Linked DNA regions of Homo sapiens. The protein of the gene in region 2 interacts with the protein of the main gene of each other region in a pairwise test. Each region holds a gene or a part of one and is shown on either strand. Other genes may lie near its edges.

What was found. Proteins that work in one complex are often made in the same cells at the same time.
Region 1: the proteins of SDHA (region 2) and SDHAF2 interact in binary tests that used the Homo sapiens proteins (3 or more experiments, as listed by UniProt).

Annotation. Positions count from the first base shown.
Region 1 is NC_000011.10:61,439,953-61,447,591, forward strand, and holds the end of SDHAF2 (succinate dehydrogenase assembly factor 2, mitochondrial), read left to right. Parts: intron 1-5,988; coding exon 5,989-6,119; 3' UTR 6,120-6,781; downstream 6,782-7,639.
Region 2 is NC_000005.10:228,320-235,958, reverse strand, and holds part of SDHA (succinate dehydrogenase [ubiquinone] flavoprotein subunit, mitochondrial), read right to left. Parts: coding exon 7,626-7,639; intron 5,084-7,625; coding exon 4,959-5,083; intron 2,483-4,958; coding exon 2,314-2,482; intron 816-2,313; coding exon 620-815; intron 1-619. UniProt on the Homo sapiens protein: Flavoprotein (FP) subunit of succinate dehydrogenase (SDH) that is involved in complex II of the mitochondrial electron transport chain and is responsible for transferring electrons from succinate to ubiquinone (coenzyme Q).

The DNA.
Region 1 (7,639 bases), on a different chromosome or scaffold from region 2:
AATACTCAGGAGAAGGATTTGCTGGGTCATGTGGTAAGTGTATATGTTTAACTTTATAATAGGGCCAGGTGTGGTAGCTCATGCCTGTAATTTCAGCATGAGATCACATGCTCCTCCTCTGGGAAGCCGAGGCAGGTGGATCACTTGAGGCCAGGAGTTCGAGACCAGCCTGGCCAGCATGACAATACCCCGTCTCTACTAAAAATGCAAAAGTTAGCCGCGTGTGGTGGTGCGCCCAGCTACTCTGGAGGCTGAGGCAAGAGAATCTCTTGAATCCGGGAGGCAGAGGTTGCAGTGAGCCAAGATCACGCCACTGTGCTCCAACCTGGGCGACAGAGTGAGACTCTTTCAAAAAAATAAATAGGGCTGGGCGCGGTGAGTCAACACCTGTAATCCCAGCACTTTGGGAGGTCGAGGCGGGTGGATCACCTGAGGCCAGGAGATCGAGACCTTCCTGGCTAACACGGTGAAACCCCGTTTCTACTAAAACGACAAAAAATTAGCTGGGTGTGGTGGCGGGTTCCTGTAGTCCCAGCTACTCGGGAGGCTGAGTCAGGAGAATCGCTTAAACCTGGGAGGTGGAGGTTGCAGTGAGCCAAGATTGGGCCACTGCACTCCAGCCTGGGTGACAGAATGAGACTCTGTCTCAAAAATAAATAAATAAAACTTTTAGTACATTTTTTCTGTAATAGGTAAATATAGATAGTAAGCTTTTTCTATAATAGGTAAATATAGATAGTAAATACAGATAATGAATATTTTAGGCTTTGCAGGCCATACAGCCTCTCATAACTACTCACCTCGACCTTTGTAGCATGAAAGCAGCCACAGATAGCAGGTAAACGAATATGATTGTGTTTCAATAAAACCTTATTTGTGGACACTGAAAATAGAATTTCATACTGTTTTCACCAGTTATGAAATATACATTTGATTTTTTTTCCCCAACCATTAAAAAATCATTCTTGGCTGGATGCAGTGGCTCACACCTATAATTCCAGCGCTTTGGAAGGCTGAGGCAAAGGATCTCTTGAGGCCAGGAGTTTGGGACCAGCCTGGGCAACATAGACCCCCTATCTCCAAAAATAAAAATAAGTTAGCTGGGCTTGGTGGTGCACACTGTATTCCCAGCTACTTGGGAGGATCACTTGAGCCCAGGAGTTCAGAGACTGCAATGACCTATGATCACGCCACTGCATTTCAGCCTGGGCAAGAGTGAGACCCAATCTCTAAAAATCATTCTTAGCTCACAGGGCATAGTTTGCCAGCTTCTGTGCTAAGCAAAAGAGGTCAAACTCAACCAGACGCGGTGGCTCACGCCTGTAATCCCAGCACTTTGGTAGGCTGAGGTGGGCGGATCACGAGGTCAGGAGATTGAGACCATCTTGGCCAACATGGTGAAACCCCGTCTCTACTAAAAATACTGGGCGTGGTGGTGGGCGCCTGTAATCTCAGCTACTTGGGAGGCTGGGGCAGGAGAATCTCTTAAACCAGGGAGTCGGAGGTTGCAGTAAGCCGAGATCATGCCACTATACTCCAGCCTGGGTGACAGAGCGAGGCTCCATCTCAAAAAAAAAAAAAAAAAGATCAGACTCAACAAGTACATACTCAGTACATAATTGGACTCCAAGAATGTGATTCTGTTTACATGATAATCTGAAAAAGGCAAAACTTACAGGGACAAATCAGTGATTGCCAGGGTGTTGGATGTGAAGGGAGGGGTTGGTGTTCCACATCTTTACCCACACTTTGTATTATCAGGGTTTTGTTTTTGTTTTTAGCCATTCCAAGAAGTATATATTGGTACATCACTATAGTTTTAATTGGCATGTCCCTAATGACTAATAATATTGAGGATCTTTTCAAGGGCTTATCAGCCCTTTATGTATATTTGGTGACATGTCTCTTCAAATTCCGCCCCCCACCACTCCTCCCTTTTTTTTTTTTTTGAGACAGGATCTCACTCTGTCACCCAGGCTGGAGTGCAGTGGTGCAGTCATGGCTCAGTGCAGGCTCCACCTCCTGGGCTCAAGCGATCCTCCCACCTCAGCCTCCAGAATAGCTGGGACTACAGGCCGGCAGCACCATGCCCAGCTAATTTTTGTTGTTGTTGTATTTTTTGTGGAGATGAGGTTTTGCCATGTTGCCCAGACTGGTCTCAAACTCCTGAGCTCAAGCAATCCACCTGCCTCGGCCTCCCAAAGTGCTGGGATTACAGGTGTGAGCCACCATGCCTGGCCAGATTTTCCATTTTGGAAGATACTTTCACTGGATATAGAATTCGAGGGTCACAATGTTTTTTCTTCTGTTAAATAGAAACACTTCTACCGCCAGCTCTTAGTGTACAAGATCGGGTAGTCAGGAGTTCCGCTGGGTTTGGACTTTGGTTTTGCTCTGGTTACCTTCAGTGCATCACCAGCTTCATATTCCCTCCGGTGTTACCATGTGCTGTTTTCTCATTTCCATAGTTTGTGACGAGGTCTGCTGTATCTTTGTTCCTTTTTATGTGTCTTCTCTTTCTGAATCTTTTCAATATTTTGTCTTTGGTTTCTAGCCGTTTCAATATTATATACATAGGTATTTATTTGATATTTATATATGTAGGCATTTGATATTTATCGTGCTTTTGGGTTCTCTGGGCATCTTGGATCTGTGTTTTCATATCTTTTATTATTGTTGAAAAATTCTCAGCTGTTACCCCTTCAGCTATTTCTTCTGCTTTGTTTTCTCCCTCTTTTCCTTCTAGGATTCTAGTTATACTTAGTTAAATGGTTTAATATTGTCCAACAGCTGTTGTGGGGGTTTTGTTTTTTGTTTTTTTGAGACAGTCTTGCTGTGTCACCAAGGCTGGAGAGCAGTGGCGCAATCTTGGCTCACTACAACCTCTGCCTCCTGGGTCCAAGCGATTCTTGTGCCTCAGGCTCCTGAGCAACTGGGACCACAGGCACGTGCCGCCATGCCTGGCTAATTTTTTTGTATTTTTCACAGAGACGGGTTTCACCATGTTGGCCAGGCTGGGCTTGAACTCCTGGCCTCAAGTGATCCGTCTGCCTCAGTCCCTTAAAGTGTTGGGATTACAGGCGTGAGCCACTGTGCTCAGTCTGTCCAACAGCTTTTGGGTTCTCTGTTTTGTGTTTTTTATTCTTTTTTCTCTTTGTGCATCAGTTTGGGTTATTTGTATTAGATAATATCTATTGACCTGTCTTCCACTAATTCTTTCCTTGATGATGTCAAATCTCATGATGGGCCTGTTGAAACCATTCTGCATATCTGCTACTGTATTTGTTTTTAGCATTTCCATTTGACTTTTGGAGTTTCCAACTCTGCTAGAATTTCTCATCTGTTCATACATTTTGTCTGCTTTTTCCACTGGCGCCTTTAATATTAGTCATAGTCATTTTAAATTCCCTGTCTGATAGTTCTAACATCTGGGTCATCCCTCAGTCTGCTTCTGTTGATTTCTTTGTCCCTTGACAGTGTGTTGTTTTTTTCTTCTTTTGTGTATATGTCTCGTAATTTTCTCATAATTGTATTTATGCTTACAATTGGGGATGCTTCTTCTACTTTACTGTTAGTGTGGGGATCAAGTCAGTGAGTTGGGAGGTAAGCTCAGCTTGGGTTGTTTTTGCTTTGGTTACCTTCATTGCATTACTAGTGTCTAGCGTTAACGTGTGCTTAGAGTGGAAGCTGGCTCTGTCGCCCAGGCTGGAGTGCAGTGGCACCCTCTCGGCTCACTGCAACCTCCACCTCCCAGGTTCAAGCGATTCTCCTGCCTCAGCCTCCTGAGTAGCTGAGACTACAATCACGTGCCACCACACCTGGCTAATTTTTTTTTTTTTTGAGACGGAGTCTCACTCTGTCACCCAGACTGGAGGCAGTGGCGCGATATCGGCTCACTGCAAGCTCTGCCTCTTGGGTTCATGCCATTCTGCTGCCTCAGCATCCCGAGTAGCTGGGACTACAGGCGCCCGCCACCACGCCCGGCTAATTTTTTGTATTTTCAGTAGAGACGGGGTTTCACCGTTTTAGCCAGGATGGTCTTGATCTCCTGACCTCGTGATCCACCCGCCTCGGCCTCCCAAAGTGCTGGGATTACAGGCGTGAGCCACTGTGCCCAGCCTGTGTCTGTGGTTTTATACACTCATGCTAGCCCACACTTGGCTTTTAACAATTCATTGCAAATTTTAGTGGCACAGGCCTGCAGTCCCAGCTGCCCTGGAGGCTGAGGCAGCAGGATCGCTGGAGCCCAGGAATTCTTGGCTGCAGTGCTCTATACCAATCAGGTGTCTGCTGTAAAGTTGGCAACAGTATGTTGACCTCTCAGAAGCAGGGGACCACCCGATTCCCTAAGGAGGGGTGAACCAGCCCACGCTGGAAATGGGACAGGTCGAAATTCCTGTGCTGATCAGTGGTGGAATTGCACCTCTGACTAGCCACTGCAGTCTCCCCTGGGCAACATAAGGCTGGCCCTGTCTGTATTAATTTAAAACAAATTTTTTTGGCTGGGCGTGGTGGCTCACGCCTGTGATCCCAGCACTTTGGGAGGCAGAGGTGGGCGGATCACAAGGTCAGGAGACCAAGACCAGCCTGACTAACACAGTGAAACCCCATCTCTACTAAAAAAAAAAAAATTACAAAAAATCAGCCGAGCGTGGTGGCGGGCGCCTGTGGTGCCAGCTACTCGGGAGGCTGAGGCGGGAGAATGGCGTGAGCCCAGGAGGTGGAGCTTGCAGTGAGTCCAGATCGCACCACTGCACTCCAGCCTGGGCGACAGAGTGAGACTCGTCTCAAACAAAAAAAAAAATTTTTTTAGCTGAATTCCTTTTACCCATTTGTATGATGTCCAGTGTCTCTTCTTCCTGTGCCTGCCACAGGTGAGCAAGTGCATGGCTCTCGTTTCTCCTTTGAAGGGCCTCTTTTTCCTTAGGTTTCGTCTGTTGGGTTGCCTCGTGACCTCAGTTCTCTGATATCTTTGAGAAAAGTCATAATATTTGTAATTTATCTGGCTTTTTCTTGTTGTTACAGTGAGTGCAATATTCTTTCCAACTTTCTACTTTCTTGGGGGAAGCCAAAACCTCTTTGATCTTATGTTGATTGTCACATGAAAACAGAGCCCTCACTAGATGCCAGGCCCTGTGCTGAGTAAGGGAGAATCTGACTTGGTTTTGAGGAATTCTCTCTCCTGGCGTCGTACCTAGTGTTGGTGGAAGGGTAATTCTGGAGCACATTGCCTCGGCTTTGGCAGTGGGAGGCTTTGCTTGTAATTGGCATCTTAAATAAGTGTCCCAAGGGTGTAGAGAAAGGTCAGGGGGAGCAGCACACTGCCAGACCCACTGCCGTAGACTGAGGCTGGCCTTCTCATTCTTCTGACTCAGTGCCTATGTTGCCCGTTCACTGAAATCTGGTTCTTTAGGCTCATGACAGTTCTGTGTGCCTCCAATATCCTTCCAATAAATTCCTTTTTGCTTAAGTTTACTAGAGTTATTAGTTTCTGTCTCTTAAAACTGAGGACCTCTAACTGATAGACAAAGGAGAGAGCTTTTGTTTCAAGAGATATATACATTGCAAGGGAAAACACAATGTCTGGGGAACAATGGAATTGCCAAATGCAAAGCAAAATAGTACAGCCAAGATTGTGCGGGCCAGGGGTCAGCAAACTTGTTCATAAAGGACCAGATAGTAAGTATTTTACTTGTAGTCATATGGTCTCTGTTGCAAGTACCCAATTCTGCTGTCATAACACAAAAGGAGCATGGGTAATATGTAAACCATTGGGAGCAGCTGTTCCAATAAAACGACTTGCAAATATAGGCTCACACAGTTTGCCACCCCCTGGTATAGGCTAACATCGTGTATATTTAGAAGAAGGATGGAGACAGTCTATATATCCATCTGTGGTTCTTGGCCAGTGTTTCGAGTTTTAAGATTCTCATACCTGAGCATTGACTGACTATGGCATAATTTTTTCTGCCCACTCTTCTCTTGCAGAAGCTAAACCAGCCCCAGAAATATTTGAAAATGAAGTCATGGCCCTGCTGAGAGACTTTGCTAAAAACAAAAACAAAGAGCAGAGACTGCGTGCCCCAGATCTTGAGTACCTCTTTGAAAAGCCACGTTGAGCTGTGCTCCACGGCCTGGCATGGGGGTTCAGTCTGTGGATGGTAACTACTTATGATGGACGTTAGCCTTGCTTCCGGCTTCTTAGATGCCCAGCTGCCCTACCCCAGACCACTGGTCCTGCCTCAAGTGATGGACATAACCCTCTCCTAGGACATACATGTAAATGCACAATGTGACTCATTCTCATACTTTTTTGTTCAGCTCTGAGCCTCAAAAGTGATTTGTCAGCAGCGCTGGCATGCAGGCTTTGCCTGGCTGCTATCTCTAGAGGCAAGTCTGCCACGAGAGGGCACTGCAGGCGAAGCAGTTGTGCTTGCTCATTGCCTCAGCCCAAGTGTACTCAAAGAAAAGAGGCAGCCAGCTGTGCGTGCTGTATGGAAAGCCTCCCGCCCTCCCTGCAGCTCCCCGCCCTCAGTGGCCCAGGGCTTTGTTGAAGTGGAACTCCCCACTTCCAACCTGGTATGGCTCCTTCTGCGAAGGGAAGCTGATCCCAGCCTCCTGAGCTGAATCCTTCAAAGGCACAGCAGGCAGAATGAGGGCCACAGGCAGGAGTGGTGTGGGCACACTGCTTAGGAGTCAACATCTTCATCATTGGGCTTTCTTTAAAACGTGCACTTTGTAATTTGAAAGAGAATTATTAAAGCATACTGAAAAAAGGAAATTTACAATTTCCCAGCCCTCACAATTAATTTTAATTTTGTCTATTTTCATATAACCCATAGTCATGTTTATAGAGTTTTACAAGTTCACAATTACAGGTTTTATTTTCATGTAGCACTATAGAAAACTTTCCCCCTCATTCCTACAGTCTTCACAATTAGTTGACTAAATAATAATACATAAGAAATAATATATTAGAATGAATTAGTTAGAAGTGTTTTTAAAAGCTCTAGGGCTGTGTGACTTCTGTGTTGCTAGTGGTGCCCTCCCTGGAGGGGTTTTGCCCTCAGAGCTGTAATCTAGGCAGTAGAATCAGTCACCCAGACTGGACCAGGTGCATCTAAAGGTGTTGACTAGAAGAAGGTCGGCCAGATTTGATGAGCAGGTGGTTGGTGATTATAGGAGCCGCACACAGGGACTACACACGCACATGTTTCCAGCATTGTTGAGCTCCAGGGTTCCTACAGAGCCACCTCATGGTTCCTGCCTGCTCTTCAGTATCCCTGGTGGCTCAGGAGGGAAGGGAAGAGATCTAGCCTTTACGTAATCACAGTTAAGCCTCACAGCACTCTAGACTAGTGGTGTTACCTGTATTTTATACATAAGAAAGTGGGCTCAGAGAGAGGAAGTAATTTGTCCAAGGTCAGGTAGCTATTGAGTCGAAAAAGCAGAATTTAGTATAGCTCAGTCTGCCTCCAAAGCTCTTGAACTTTCTACTAGAACACACTGCCTTACTGCTGGAAATTTAATAGAAGTCTCTGTTTGGGAAAGCTGTGGCAAATAGATGTGACAGTTCTGAGACATGACCTCTGTGTTACATGGTGGGTAGGAATCTGCCAGGTGCTTCGCCAAGTGAGTA
Region 2 (7,639 bases):
CGAAGGTATCCCCCAGTTTCCCCTCTGCCCCTGAGCACCTGCTGTTACAAGCAGGTCAGAGGACCTCCAATGTCAGCATCTGCGACTGTCCCCCGTGTCCCATGTTCCCGGGGCCCTCACCACCTGTGCTCCGGCTCAGACCCAGGAGCACGGCAGGTGGAGGAACATCAGCAGGGGAGACTGATGTTCCAGACTGTTCTACCCCGTTCACCTCTTCGTCTACGCAGGGAGAGCAACAGCTTCCACCCACCTCGCCCAACAAGGAGCCTAAGTGACTGACAAGCTCTGTGTGAACCACAAACCACTCAAAGGAATGAATTATAAAGATCCCTTGATGTGTAAGATCATTAGAAATAACACAAGATCATATAGGAAAGTAATTACAAAATGGAAAAAGCTGCAAATGATGTATCTCTGACAATTTACTAAGGAGGAATAAATTATTAAGCCCCCTCCATCCTCCGGTAATAGAAATTTAAAGTGCAATCTAGAAAACAATACAGTACTTTCTTGAAGGAAACATCTATCTTTTCCTGTAAGATCTAAAGAGACAACTGCGAGGTGGGCCCCGTCGTCCCAGCCTTCTTTCCAGCTGTGGGGGAGGAGCCAGCACCATCACCTGCCCCTTGTAGTTGGTGGGAATGCCGCCCATGTTATAATGCACGGTGGGGAGGACAGGGATCGGCTCCTTCGTGACGTCCACGCCAGCGAAGATCATGGCTGTCTCTGAAATGCCAGGCAGGCGCGTGGCCAGCTGCTCTGGAGGTAGGTGGTGCAGCTGCAGGTAGACGTGATCTTTCTCAGGGCCACAGCCTCTGGTAAGACAGAACACCATCACATACGGCAGAGAACGGCAACGGCAGGAGACCTGAGAATACGTCATCTTGGAAGTGTGTGAGTTTCAACATGTTTTGATACTGAGGAAAATTTCCCCTCATGTATGGTCACCCTCTCATCAAATCTTTTCTAAGCAGCTACTGTGTGCCAGGGACAATCCCAGGTGCTGGGACACAGCTGAGAACCAGAACAAAAACTCTGCCCTCACTAAACTCACGCTCGTCTCAGGGATCACAGCCTGCTGCAGGTGTCCTTGGTAAGTGCATTAGAAAGGCCTCTATGCCAAATACAGTCGTCCCTGCGTATCCGTGGCAGGTTGGGTCCAGGACCCCCACGGATACCAAAATCCGTGGATGCTCAAGTCCCTAATATAAAATGGGAGAGTATTTGCATATAACCTATGCACATCCTCCTCTATACTTTAAATCATCCTCATTTCAAGTTTTACGTTTAAGTTTTACAGCAACTCCAGGATGACTCATAGTACCTAATACAATGTAAATGCTACGTAAATAGCTGTTACACTGTATTGTTAAGGGAACAATGACAAGGAAAAAAAGTCTGCATATTTGTAAGGATGCAATTTTATTTTCAATACATAGTTGGCTGAAACCACACATGTGGAACCAATGGGTACGGAGGGCCACCATATTCCAAAAAACCATTTGACTTCTCTGTTTTTTTTTTTTTTTTTTTTTTTTTTGAGACAGAGTGTTGCTCTGTCGCCCAGGCTGGAGTGCAGTGGTGTGATCTCAGCTCACTGCAAGCTCCGCCTCCCAGGTTCACGCCATTCTCCTGCCTCAGCCTCCCGAGTAGCTGGGACTACAGGCACCTGCCATCACGCCCGGCTAATTTTTTGTATTTTTAGTAGAGACGGGGTTTCACCGTGTTAGCCAGGATGGTCTCGATCTCCTGACCTCCTGATCTGCCCGCTTCAGCCTCCCAAAGTGCTGGGATTACAGGCGTGAGCCACTGCGCCCCACCTGACTTCTCTGTTTTTTTAATATAAAAATGTAAAACCTCTAAAGGCCATACCAGCAGATATTTAGCAAATGTCATTACATTAAAGAACAGGGTCAGGCAATGAAAGAGCTGCAAACTGTTTTACTGAAAGCCAAATAACCCACACACTTTGAAAGCTGCCAAAAAACATCTGTGGGTATCAGACACAACACCCAAGGCTCACATGCCGACTTCAGGTTGGGTGTGTGTCTCTCTCTCCCATACTCCGTCACATACTCACACACACTAAGAGAAACTCTGTTCCACAGATTTGAGAAAGAAACTGGCTAAAATTTTCAAAATGTAGGTCTTTAGGAAAATATCGCAGACTAACAGACGCCTGCCAGCAGCTAAGAGAGGTGGCTGTGCACATGCGCCTGCACACGAAGGTGAGGGCGAGCGGTGCTGAAACTCACAGAAGCAACCCCGGCCCGTGTGCCCGCTCAGACAGTGCTGGTGGTAAATCACACGCACCTTCCTTCTCGGATCTCCAGAGTCATGGACCGAGACACCACATCTCTAGACGCCAGGTCCTTCGCGACAGGGGCGTATCGCTCCATAAACCTTTCGCCTTGACTGTTAATGAGAATGCCTCCCTCTCCACGACATCCTTCCGTAATGAGACAACCAGCACCATATATGCCTGCAAAAAACCACACATATTTATTACCTAACAATTGCTAGATCTCTATTTCAAATGCATTATTTTTTTCAAGACATTTTTTGGGGGAAAGAGGAAAAAGATAAGCAGAAGGCATTATGTGCAAAACTGCACAGCAAGACAGTTAAGATACAGTAGAAAGTCTGGATAACAAAAAGCACTGACAAGGCTGACAGCTGCAGCAGAGGCTGGGGCAGAGCGGTGTCCCCAGAGAGGAGAAAGGCCGGCCCACAGACCTCTGGCCAATACTCTGATTACAGCCCAGTGTACGTTGGATGCCTCAAATTTTGTTTTAATTTTTGAACATTCTTTTGCACTATGATACTGTGGTGACTAGTTAAGAATACTAGCTTGAAGTATTCATATCTAAATTATCCAAACAGTGACAAGGACAGTAATAATGATTATTTTAGATAATATTTACACTGCACTTGCTATGGGCAGTTCTAGCTGCTTTCCACATATTAACTCGTTTAAGTCTTACAACAACTCTGGGTAGTACGACCCCCTTTCTCAGTGACAAGCAAATTAACACTTGGTAACATCCAGTCATGCAGCTGAGGACAGAGCTCAAACCCAAACCTGGGTAGTCCGGCGGTCTGTGCTCCAAACAGCGGCTCTGTGACTCCTCAGTGCGATGAGAAACAGGGCATGCCAAGCTCTCGAATTTTAACAAAGGAGATCAAAAACCCTAAACTAAATGTATTTCGAAAGCTACAATTTTTATTAGTATACAAAAAGGGCAATCTTGCTTTTAAAAAACGAATGTGATTCTTGTCTGTCTTTTGATTTTCTAAGTTTCAATGCTCTTTTTTCTGTGGTTACTTCTCACATACTGAAGACAAAGCATGAGCAGTGGAGCTCTAAGCAAATTACAGAGGGAATTCAGGGGCTCAGTGACATTTTATTCATTAAAAACAGTAATAAAAAATACAACAGGCCGGGTGCAGTGGCTCATGGCTATAATCCCAGGACCCTGAGGGGCCGAGGCAGGAGGATGGCCTAAGCCCTGGAGTTTGAGACCAGCCTGGGCAAAACGGTGACATCCCGTCTCTACCAAAAACGAAAAAACCCTCGAAAATTAGCTGGGCATGGTAACACATGCCTGTAGTCCCAGCTGTTTGGGAGGCTGAGGTGGAAGGATCGTTTGAGCCTGGGAGACAAAGGCTGCAGTGAGTCAAGATTGCTCCACTGCACTCCAGCCTGAGCAACAGAGCAAGACCCCATCTCGAAACAAATAAAAAAAAAACACTACAACAAATTCATTTCTTATTTTCATCCCTTCCAGGGATCAGAAAGCTGACACTGACAGAGAAAGAGAAGACACAGGTCTGGTTCTTTGGCACCACTTCAGAGGTCTCCATCGTCCACAGGTCAGAAAAGCAACCCAGAAAAGTATAGGACAAGTCACCTCAAACAAGAGGCAGGTGTGTGTCTGTCTCTGACTCATTCTGAAGAACCTCCTCCAAACTCAAGACTTCAACTGTCATTTCTGAGTTAATGTCTCCGAATTGCACATTCGTAACCTCAACCGTCAGACGTCCCCAAGACGAGCTCATCTTCCCCACGACAAGCTCTCTCAGTGGTCACGTGGGCTGAGCCCAGCGCCCAATGTCACATGGGGTTCTGTCACGGCTGCGTCCTAACTTTACATCCCATTGTCACAGAAGCTCCGTGTTCTCCTACAAAGCTGAAGTCTGCCTGTGCTGCTTCTCGGTTCCATGGCATTCTCCCAGCTCTCAGAATGTTCACTCAGTAAACCCCGGTGGAGACCCTACCATGTGCTGGGCATGGAGCACCACAGCTAACGAGAAGACCTGCCTGCCCGAGGAGCTGACGACCTCGTTGCGAAGAGGGACACTGAACAATCCCTGCTTTACTTTTTTTTTTTTTTTTTTTGAGACGGAGTCTTACTCTGTTGCCCAGGCTGGAGTGCAGTGGCGCGATCTCGGCTCACTGCAACCTCTGCCTCCCAGGTTCAAGCATTCCTCCCACCTCAGCCTCCCAAGTACCTGGGATTACAGGTACACGCCATCACGCCCAGCTGATTTTTGTATTTTTAGTAGAGACGAGGTGTCACCATGTTGGTCAGGCTGGTCTCGAACTCCTGACCTCAGGTGATCCGCCCGCCTTGGCCTCCTAAAGTGCTGGGACTACAGGAGTGAGCCACTGTGCTCGGCCTCAATCCCTGCTTTACTGCTGGCTTAAGTATCACCAAGGCAGGGTTTAGCGCTCTTGAGAAATACATAAGACGGTGGCCCAAACTGCCTTAGGGGAAGGGGAGTGTGGGAAAAGTCTCCTTAGGTAAATGACGTTGAAGTTAGGACCTGAGAGCTGAGGAAGCTGATCTTCAAAACCATGTTATTACATAAAACTATGGAAGAGCAATGAGTAGGCATCACATGCTTACAAGACACACACAAGCCAAACACCTGCCGGGCAAGGCGTCCTGCCCTACCTGTAGGGTGGAACTGAACAAACTCTAGGTCCTGGCAAGGAAGGCCTGCCCTGGTGATCATGGCCGTGCCGTCGCCAGTGCTGGTGTGGGCAGACGTGCAGCTGAAGTAGGTGCGCCCGTAGCCTCTGGAAACAATAGAGAGCAGTGACTGCACACAGCGGCCCACATCTGGACCTCCTATCTGGTGAGATCACAGAATGGACACGGCAGCCCCCAGCACCGTCTTCTCAGTGCTGTGCACACACAACCCCCTACTCACGCACACCCCACACATATCACTAGGGGCCGCGCCACTGGTGCTGCTACCCTGCACAGGTAGGATAGAAGCCTGGGATCAAAGAAAGGACTTCCATTTGTATTTTATTTATTTATTTTGAGATAGGATCTAACTCTGTTGACCAGGCTGGAGTAGAGTGGTGCGATCTCGGCTCACAGCAACCTCCGGCTCCCAGGTTCAAGTGATTCTTCCGCCTCAGCCTCCCGAGTAGCTGGGATTACAGTGTGCACCACCACGCCCAGTTAATTTTTGTATTTTTAGTAGAGATGGGGTTTCACCATGTTGGCCAGGCTGGTCTCGAACTCCTGACCTCAAGTGATCCTCCCACTTTGGCCTCCCAAAGTGCCGGGATTACAGGCGTGAGCCACTGCACACCTGGCCCTATTTGTATTTTAGCTTTGTGCTGTTCAAAAGGTTTCCCCAATAAGCATATACTACTTTTATAATGAAAATTTTAAAATTTTTATGGATTTTTTTCTCCCCCAGATTTACTGAGGTATGATTGATGAATTTAAAAAAAAAACTATATATTTATGGTGTACAGCGTGATGATTTATTTTGTGAAATGATGACACAATCAAGTTAATACACATCTATCACCTCATACAATTATCCTTTTTTTGGAGATACAGACGCCTAACGTCTACTATCTTCGCAAATTTCAAGTTATAATATTAACGATAGCCACCATGCTGTATAATATTAACTCTAGCCACCATGCTGTATAATGTTAACTCTAGCCACCATGCTGTATAATATTAACGATAGCCACCATGCTGTATATTAACTCTAGCCACCGTGCTGTATAATGTTAACTCTGGCCACCATGCTGTATAATGTTAACTCTGGCCACCATGCTGTATAATGTTAACGATAGCCAGCATGCTGTATAATGTTAACTCTAGCCACCATGCTGTATAATGTTAACTCTAGCCACCATGCTGTATAATGTTAACTCTAACCACCATGCTGTATAATGTTAACTATAGCCACCATGCTGTATAATGTTAACTCTGGCCACCATGCTGTATAATGTTAACTATAGCCACCATGTTGTATATTAGACCTTCAGAACTTCACCTTGTAACGGGAAGTTACACCTTTAATCAGCATCGCCACAGTCTGCATTCCCCCAGCCCCTGGCAACCACTGTCCTACTCTGTTTCTGTGAGTTGTGACTGTTTTAGATTCCACATGAGTGACATGCAGTATCTGTCTTTCTGTGCCTGGCTCGTTTCACTTAACATAATGACTTTGGGTTCATCCACGTTGTCACACATGACAGGATTTCCTTCATTTTCATAGCCGAATAATATTCAGTTGTGTATACACACCACATTGTCATTAAACACCAACACATATTTAGGTTGTTTCCATATCTCGGGTATTGTGAATAATGCTGCAATGAACATAGGGTCCAGGTGTCTCTTTGAGCTTCTGATTTCATGCCCTTTGGATATACACCCAGAAATGGGGTTGCTGGAGCACATAGTAGTCCTATGAATTTTGAGGAACCTCCAGAGTTTTCCGTAATAGTTGTACTAATTTACATTCCCACCAACAGCACACAGGGTTCCCTTTTCTCCACATCCTCACCAACACTTGCTCTTTTGTCCTCTTGGTAACAGTCATTCTAACTGGAGCGAGATGAGATGATATCTCATTGGGGTTTTAATTTGCATTTCTCTGGTGCTTAGTGACGTTGAGCATTTTTTCATACATCAATTGGCCATTTGTATGTCTTCTCTAGAAAAATATCTATTCAAGTCCTTTGCCCATTTTTAGTAGGGTTGTTTTTTAGTAGGGTTTAGTAGGTTGTTTTTAGTAGGGTTTTTTTTTTGCTATTTTAGATAGTAAGATATTATTACACATATGGTTTGGAAAATATTTCTTCCCAACCTGTAGTTTTGCTGATTTTTTGTTTGGCTGTACTGACACTTTTTAACTTTTAAAATGGTTAAAGTAACTGACAGTGTATAAAATTAAAGTTACTTATTTTCATCATGTGGAGAAGAAGGACTTACCCACCCGAGGAATCAGTATCAATACAGTACCCACTAAAACAAGAGAGATTTTGCCAGAAAACCCCATGTTGACTCTTTGGGCCACAGTTCCCTCATCTAAATTGGGAGAGGTAAGCTGTGAACCTGAGGGCAACCACTACCATCTACTGAGGACCATGCTTTCTCACCCTGAGGCAGGTGCTCCTGTCCTCACCCTTTACAGGTGAGGAACCACGGCTGGGAAAGGCCATCACCCTCACATGGTTATATCAAGGCCTGTGTCTAAACCGTTATTCTACAATGCCTCTATTTTCATTAAAATAAAGAAACTCTAAATGAAATTTATTCATTTTTATAAACAAAATAAAGTAGAAATGAGATTCCTACCCTGTGGCAACAAC